Linked DNA regions of Homo sapiens: all the other regions are linked to region 1. The links come from fine-mapping of genetic effects on gene expression. A gene starts in region 1. Each other region holds a variant in brackets. All regions are shown on one strand. Distances are from middle to middle.

What was found. PIP is the estimated chance that this variant, and not a neighbour inherited with it, causes the effect.
Region 2: its variant is the best candidate, but not a certain one, in a credible set for the expression of CFAP119 in whole blood (TOPMed, PIP 0.58).
Region 3: its variant is the best candidate, but not a certain one, in a credible set for the expression of CFAP119 in lung (TOPMed, PIP 0.52).

Annotation. Positions count from the first base shown.
Region 1 is chr16:30,760,745-30,763,585 of GRCh38, forward strand. CFAP119 (cilia and flagella associated protein 119) reads right to left here and starts at 1,318. Exons shown (of 9, transcript NM_001014979.3): 1 at 801-1,318; 2 at 454-485. The coding sequence starts at 1,004. PHKG2 (phosphorylase kinase catalytic subunit gamma 2) reads left to right here. Exons shown (of 10, transcript NM_000294.3): 10 at 1-432. RNF40 (ring finger protein 40) reads left to right here and starts at 1,578. Exons shown (of 20, transcript NM_014771.4): 1 at 1,578-1,616; 2 at 1,731-1,933; 3 at 2,374-2,541; 4 at 2,674-2,815. The coding sequence starts at 1,802. RefSeq lists enhancers at 1-442, 407-556, 1,147-1,326, 1,282-1,919, 1,407-1,666 and 1 more and a silencer at 641-870.
Region 2 is chr16:30,935,623-30,938,122 of GRCh38, forward strand. All of the region lies in intron 7 of FBXL19 (F-box and leucine rich repeat protein 19), which reads left to right. Among named protein-coding and RNA genes, the nearest start is that of ORAI3, 12 kb to the right of the region's middle. The variant C/CTCCT (reference allele first, on the strand shown) is at 1,344.
Region 3 is chr16:30,640,641-30,643,481 of GRCh38, forward strand. No RefSeq gene overlaps it. Among named protein-coding and RNA genes, the nearest start is that of PRR14, 8.9 kb to the right of the region's middle. The variant G/GCTC (reference allele first, on the strand shown) is at 1,319.

The sequences.
Region 1 (2,841 bases):
TGGGAGTTGGCCACCGGCGTGAAGCTGGGCTCTTTTGCCAGCTTGCTGTGTGACTATGCAAATCGTTAACTCTCTGGGCCTAAATGAACTCTTATGAGCCTCTCCATTTCTAAAGCCTAGGGTTAGGAATCTTGAATTCTTTTTTCTGCTCTGCCACTACCTTGTATGACCTTGGTCAAGTACTCCCTGTGGCCCTCAGTGTCCCCCTCTGTACAATACTCCTTAGCGGCCATGAGACTCCATTTACATTCTGTCTTTGGCTCTTTTTTTCTCACACTGCCTCCTCTTTGGACTGGAGAGGCTGGAAAGCCAACTTCCAGTCACCTGGAGTAATTGCATCTCCAGGCCTCAGTCTCATCTGTAAAATGGGGATGCCCTGGCCACAGACAGGACTGTTGGGGAGACAATAAAGAACGCAAATATTCAGTGTAATTTTTGTCTCTTCACACTCACCACATGCAGATCCGGGGTCGGGGCAGCGGCGGCTGCGGAAAGAAAGCGAATTGGGGAAGGCAGCTGCGGTGTCCTGGCCCGTAGCGAATCTCCAGCAGGCCGGAGAAGCCGCTGTAACTTGCCATCTCATCTCAAGGACTAAGGAGAGGCGCGGGCGAGGGAGGGCTTCAGCAGGCCCTAGGTGCTCTACGCGAGCACAGTAACCACCGGGGTCACACACCCCTGCCTCTCCTCGCCCAAGCAGCCCGGGAGACGTCCCGAACGTTAGTAAGCATAATGACAGGTGGCGCCTGCGGGGGAGCCGGTTTATAAATATTCACGAGCAGACCAGACTGTCCCGCCCTCACCGGAAACAAGTTGGCTCCGGGGTCTTCATCCGCTTTCGCCGCCGCCGCCGTCGTCCACTGAGTCCGCACACTCGCACGCGTCCGCGCGGCCGACCCATGCACTGAGCTGCGATCCTTCCCCGCTTCCCGCCGCAGCTCGGAGAGATGTTCAAGCTCCGACTGCACCCTCATTCCCAAAAAGTGGCTGGTCTTGCGGTTGAGCATCTCGCCGCTCTTCCGTGCCGCGAGGCGCCCCGGGCTCCCGCCGCCTAGGTTCCAGGACAGCCAGCGCTCGGTCGGCGGCTACCAAGGCCGGGCCCGTTCGCCTCGCTCCGGCCAATCTACGCGCGGAGAGGCGCGGCGGGGCGAATCCGTGGGGGCGTCTCCCTCCGTCTCAACGGCGACGGTTGCCAAGGGGGCTTGTGAGGGAAGGAAGGCGGAAAGCGCAGGCTCACGCCAGTGGGAGCGAAGAGAACGCGCAGATACGTGAGAAGTTGCGAGTGCCCACCTGGGCGCCCTCTCTTCCAGGTTGCTAATACGAGGGCCGGTGCTGTCCTCCAGGCTGGGAAGTGGGAGCGCGGTGTCAGTTACTATGGGAACTGCCTCTTGGCCAATCACCGAGAGAAAGAGGAGGTGTTTGGGAAGAAGCCAGAGGACCCGAGTGGCGGGACCAAGCGTAACCAATAGAAGCAGAAGATAAAGAAGTTTCCTCACATCCGGGGCTGCCTTTGGCGCCTGCGCCCTGCGCACCGTTGGGGGGGGGGCAGTGGCGTCCAGTGACGCCCAGTGACGTCCGGTGAAATCCAAGATGGCGGCGCTAGGCTGACCCTCCTGCTGGTGAGGGCTCTGGCGCCGGGGGGGACGGGATCCAGCAGGTGTGTGCAGGGTGGAGGGTGTTTGGGGCTGTGGAACACCAGCCGTTCCCACATCTCTGCTCTGTGTCTTCTGCAGGTGACGGAAGTACCGCCTCCTCCCGTTTGACGCCCCTCAGGGGACCCTGCATCGCTCCAGCCGCCGCGGCCATGTCTGGGCCAGGCAACAAACGCGCCGCCGGCGACGGGGGCTCAGGGCCCCCGGAAAAGAAGCTGAGTCGTGAGGAGAAGACCACCACGACTCTTATCGAGCCCATTCGTCTTGGAGGCATCTCTTCCACGGTTCGTGGGCTCTTGCCTTAACCCTCAGAACTTCCCAGAGCCCTCCCTCTGTTCTCTGGCCAAACTGTGCGGAATCTTACACCCACTTCCCCAAGTTTAGCAAGGTCCGCGTTACAGGACCTTGAAAGAAAGGTTAGAAAGAAGCTCAGAACACGACGCCTGTCTTCCCTTTACAGATAGGAAAACAGGTTTCCAGGGGGCGTGTGACTTGTCAAAGACTAAGGATTTACAAGGGGACAGGCAGAAACAACGTGAGCCTCCTCACAACAAAGACACTTTCGCTGTGTGTTGTCTGAGCCTCCTTAGATTCTGTTAGCGGTTAGTGTGGGAATACCTCCATCTCCCATGCATTGCAGATGCTCTGCTCCTCTTTCTCTCTCTGTGATTGGTTTGTGGGCCCTGCTTGACGCTCTCGTCGGCCCCTTTGTTTCCTTTGGTAGGAGGAGATGGACCTGAAGGTACTACAGTTCAAGAACAAGAAACTGGCAGAGCGGCTGGAACAACGGCAGGCTTGTGAAGATGAACTCCGAGAACGAATTGAGAAGTTGGAGAAGCGGCAGGCCACAGATGATGCCACACTCCTCATCGTCAATCGCTACTGGGCCCAGGTGGATACCTTCTGCTTTCAAAGACCAGGCCTTGATTCAGCTGCCAATCCCCAGATTCCCCTGCTAGGAAAGGAGTATCATGTTGGAAAGCACTAAGGGATTCATAACATTTTTGATGTTTTCTCCTTCCAGCTGGATGAAACTGTGGAAGCCCTTCTCCGATGCCATGAGAGCCAGGGGGAGCTGTCTTCAGCGCCTGAGGCACCTGGGACCCAGGAGGGGCCAACATGTGATGGGACTCCTCTCCCAGAGCCGGGGACATCAGAGCTGAGAGGTAGGACCAGAGTGCTGGGATCTGGG
Region 2 (2,500 bases), 170 kb after region 1:
AGCATCGGGGCCCAGAGAGCTACAAGAGGTCGGAACTGGCAGTGCTTGGAGCCCTAGGGGCCGTGAGCCTTCAGAGGGCAGTAAGGGCTGGTCCAGCTCCCTGTTCCCGGGGGCTTCTGCAAGAGGGAGGGTTAGGATTGGAATTGAGGGTTTGCAGGTCGGCCTAGTAGGAGAGGACTCATTGCGGGGTGGCTGGAGTCCAGGAGGAAGTGAATGGGTTAGGGGACTTTGGCATCAAGCCACATGTCTCTGGGACGACGGCACACCTTGGCTCTTAGAGCTTTCCCTGCCTCTTGTCTCAGTGTCATTCTCCAGCTTAGAAAGAACCCACCTGTGGCTCCCTGTCGCCCTCACAACAGACGCCCACCATCGCAGTCCTGTTGGACATATGGACATGAACTGGGCCTACCGACTGCACCAACCACTTCCCTGAGCTGTGTCCCTTCCTTGTCACAGCAACCTCTGAAGGAAGCGCTGTTCTTCACCCCACTGTACAGTTTGGGAAATGGAAGCCCACACAGGGCGAGTGACTTGCCTGAGGCCCCCCAAAGCCTGGAGGTGGCAGAGCTGGGATTTAGATCCCCATAGCTCACATCCTCAGCTCTGGGCTCTGTGACCATGATAGTCTATGGCCTGGCATTCCAGCCCTCCTTGACATGACACCCATCCCTCCTTTGCAGCTCCACTCTTGCCTCTTCTCTCCTCAGAATTCAGGCTTTCCACCCAGACGGGCTAGGTGGAACCCCGCCTCTACTACCTACCACTTGGTAGTTGTGGGACCTTGAATACATTTCTCAACCTTTCTGGGCCTCATTTTTTTTTTTTTTTTTGAGACGGAGTCTCACTCTGTCACCCAGGCTGGCGACAATCTCGGCTCACTGCAAGCTCCGCCTCCCGGATTCACGCCATTCTCCTGCCTCAGCCTCCTGAGTAACTGGGACTACAGGTGCCTGCCACCACGCCTGGCTAATTTTTTTTCTTTTTTTTTTTTTTTTTTTGTTTTTTAGTAGAGACGGGGTTTCACCATGTTAGCCAGGATGGTCTCGACCTCCTGACCTCATGATCCACCTGCCTCAGCCTCCCAAAGTGCTGGGATTACAGGCGTGAGCCAGCGCGCCCGACCTTTTTTTTTTTTTTTGAGGCAGAGTCTGACTCTGTTACCCAGGCTGGAGTGGAATGCTGTGGTCTCGGCTCACTGCAACCTCTGCCTCCTGGGTTCAAGTGATTCTCCTGCCTCAGCCTCCTGAGTAGCTGGGACTGCAGGCGCGTGCCACCACACCCAGCTAATTTTTGTATTTTTAGTAGAGACGAGGTTTCACTATGTTGGCCAGGCTGGTCTTGAA[C/CTCCT]TCCTGACCTCGTGATCCGCCCTCCTTGGCCTCCCAAAGTGCTGGGATTAACAGGCGTGAGCCACCGCACACGCTTGCCTCATTTTCTTTACTGTAGAAAGGAGATGATGATGGTAATGTTGACCTCCTAGGGCTGGCGTGAGGTTCAGTGCTTAATGCATGGGACAGTGCCTGGCACACAGTGAACCCTGGATGATGGCTGGTTAGTAGTGCTGAAGTCACTGTGATCAGCGTGACTCTGGTTATGATGATGAGTTCCTGTGGCCTGGGGTTTCCAGAGCTCTCCGTCTTGTCTCTTGTGGGCCTGGACACAGGTTCTTGCCCATCTGGAACACACACCCTCCTCCCCCTCCCCTTGCTGAAATAACTACTGCTTTCCTCGGAGTCTCAGGTCAGGCATTGTCCCCCCAGGAGGCTCCCCCACCCAGTCCTTGAGGTGACTCTTACCATGCCCCTTGTCACCTCAGTTACTGCGGACTGTCCATGTCTCCCTGACTGTATGGCAGGAACCTGTCATCTTTGCCTCCTCCGTGCCCAGTGGAAGCCAGATACTTGGGATCAGTAGGGCCCTCAGTGACTGTTGGTTGTCCCTCTGAGGTTTAACCCCAGTGTCCTGGTTGTACAAGAGCAGGGGGACTGATGAGCTGTAGCCAAGGAAGGTGTGGGAGACTTCCTGGAAGAGGAGGCACTGGAGCCGAGCCACGAAGGCTCTGGGTTGGCATTTCTGGCAGAGGCACAGCATGTGCCACAACGTGTTGGCATCAGACAGCACTGTGTCTATAGGTGGGCAGGTGTGTGGCCTGGCTGTTGTGGAGTATGATACAGAAACACAACTGGGGTCCTGTGGGTGCCCCCAGGGAAAGGGGCTTCCTTCCAGCTGTGGACCGTGGAAGGGAAGTGGCTTCAAGGAAGTGGTGACAGTTAAGCTGGGAGGCAGTCGTGGCAGGGTCACAGTGGGCAGAGAGAGGTTTTGGATAGAGCAGATGTCACCGATTTTCTTGCTCACAGAAAGAGCAAAGGGGCAGGACCTAGGGGTAGAAGCTGGGTCGGGCATGAGTTGGTTTTTTTCCTTTTCATGTTTTGAATTGGAGAGATTTGCAGATGTTTATTAGTTGAGAGGAAGGAATCAGGAGAGGGAGAGGCTAGAATGCCAGAAA
Region 3 (2,841 bases), 120 kb before region 1:
GCAGGGATTGGGAGGTGAAAGGATTATTCAGGACTCAGGGAAGCTCAGCTTAATTGGAAGAAAAAGGTAGTGGGGAAAAAATGGGGGGTACAAGCATATGACAACTTCAATATGACAACTTCACCAAATCTCCTAGCAAAGCCCTACCCAAGCATTACATACTGACATATACATTACTTAAATTTTTATTTTTTTGAGATGTAGTCTTGCTCTGTTGCCTAGGCTGGAGTGCAGTGGTGCAATCTCAGCTCACTGCAACCTCCGCTTCTAGGTTCAAGAGATTCTCCTCCCTCAGCCTCCTGAGTAGCTGGGACTACAGGCATGCACCACTATGCCCAGCTAATTTTTGTATTTTTAGTAGAGATGGTGTTTCACCATATTGGCCAGGCTGGTCTTGAACTCCTGACCTCGTGATCCACCTGCCTCGGCCTCCCAAAGTGCTGGGATTACAGGCATGAACCACTGCGCCCAGCCAAAATATATATATATAGAGAGAGAGAGAGAGAGAGAGAGAGAGACAGGTTCTGGCTCTGTTGCCCAGGCTGGATTGCAGTCGTGGCATCTCAGCTCACTGCAACCTCTGCCTCCTGGGCTTAAGCCATCCTCCCACCTCAGCCTCCGGAGTTGCTGGGACTACAGGCTCACACCACCATTCCTGGCTAATTTTTTTTTTTTTTTAGAGACAGGGTTATGCCATATTGCCCAGGCTGGTCTCAAACTCCTGAACTCAAGCAGTCTGCCTGCCTCAGCCTCCCAAAATGCTGGGATTACAGGCGTGAGCCACTGCTCCCAGCGTATTTAAAAAATTTTTTAAAGAATAATGTAATACAGAAAAGTGCACAAACCCTAAGTGTAGGCTCAATGCATTGTCACAAAGTAAACACACCCATATCAAGAAACCAGTACCCATATCAAGAAACCAAAACATTGGCTGGGTGTGGTGGCTCATGACTACAGTCCCAGCCCTTTGGGAGCTGAGGCTGGGGAGGAATGGGTGAGGCCAGGAGTTCAAGAGGAGCCTGGACAACAGAGTGAGACCCCCTCTCTACAAAAACAAAACAAAACAAAAAATATATACATATATATTTAGCTGGGCATGGGGGTTCACACCTGTAGTCCCAGCTACTTAGGAGGCTGAGGTGGGAGGATTGCTTGAGCTCAGGAGTTCAAGGTTGCAGTGAGCCATGATCGCAACACTGCACTCAAGCCTGGGCAACTGAGCAAGACCCTCCCTCCTTTTTTTTTTCTTTACTCTACTTCTCTCCAGCAGAGACCCTGTCTCTACAAAGCAAAACAAAACATCTGTAGCATCCTAAAG[G/GCTC]CTCATGTCCCTCCTAGTTACTACCCTACCACAAGAGTAACCACTAGTTCAATTTATTTTTCTTTATTTTCTGTTAGAGATGGGAGTCTTGAACTCCTGGCTTCAAACAATCCTCCCATCACAGCCTCCCAAGTAGCTGGGGTTACAGTTGTGAGCCACCATGCCCACCGTGTAGTTGTAACATTTATTTTTTATTTTATTTTTATTTATTTATTTTTTTATTTTTTGAGATGGCGTTCCGGTCTTATTGCTCAGGCTGGAGTGCAATGGTGCGATCTCGGCTCACTGCAGCTTCCGCCTTCCGGGTTCAAGTGATTCTCCTGCCTCAGCCTCCCGAGTAGCTGGGATTACAAGCATGTGCCACAACATCCAGCTAATTTTGTACTTTTAGTAGAGACGGGGTTTCTCCATGTTGGTCAGGCTGGTCTCAAACTCCCAACCTCAGGTGATCCACCCATCTCGGCCTCCCAAAGTGCTGGGATTACAGGCGTGAGCCACCGCGCCCAGCCTGTAATATTTATTTATTTATTTATTTATTTATTTATTTATTTATTTATTTATTTTTGAGACAGAGTCTAGGCTGGACTGCAGCAGCACGATCTTGGCCCACTGCAACCTCTGCCTCCCCAGTTCAAGCAATTCTCACACCTTAGCCTCCTGAGTAGCTGGGATTACAGGTGCACACCACCATGCCCAGCTAATTTTTTGTATTTTTAGTAGAGACGCAGTTTTGCCATGTTGGCCAGGCTGGTCTCAAACTCCCAACTTCAGGTGATCTGCTTGCCTTGGCCTTCCAAAGTGCTGGGATTACAGGCATGAGCCAATGTGTCCAGCCTATATTGACTTTTAAAAGTAGTATTATAGATGTTTTATTTATCTATTCATTAATTTCATCAGAGTAAAAGGAGTGTTCAAAACTTTTTTTTTTTTTTTTGGCCGGGCACAGTGGCTCATGCCTGTAATCCCAGCAGTTTGGGAGGCCGAGGTGGGCAGATCACGAGGTCAGGAGATTGAGACCAGCCTGGCCAACATGGTGAAACCCCGTCTCTACTAAAATACAAAAAATTAGCTGGGCATGGTGGCACGTGCCTATAGTCCCAGCTACTCCGGAGGCTGAGGCAGGGGAATTGCTTGAATCCAGGAGGCGGAGGTTGCAGTGACCCGAGATTGTGCCACTGCACTCCAGCCTGGTGACAGAGCGAGACTCTGTCTCAAAAAAGAAAAAACAAAACAAACAAACAAAAAAAACTTTTTTTTTTTTTAAGACGTGTGGCCAGGCCCAGTGGCTCACACCTGTAATCCCAGAGCTTTGGGAGGCTGAGGCAGGAGGATCACTTGAGCCCAGGAGTTCAAGACTAGCCTGGGCAACATAGCGAGACCACCCTTATCTCTATAAAAATTTTTCTTTTTTTTCTTTTTTTTTTTAAGGCAGAGTCTTGCTCTTTCGGGCAGGCTGGAGTGCAGTGGCATGATCTCAGCTCACTGCAACCTCCACCTCCCGGGTTCAAGCATTCTCCTGCCTC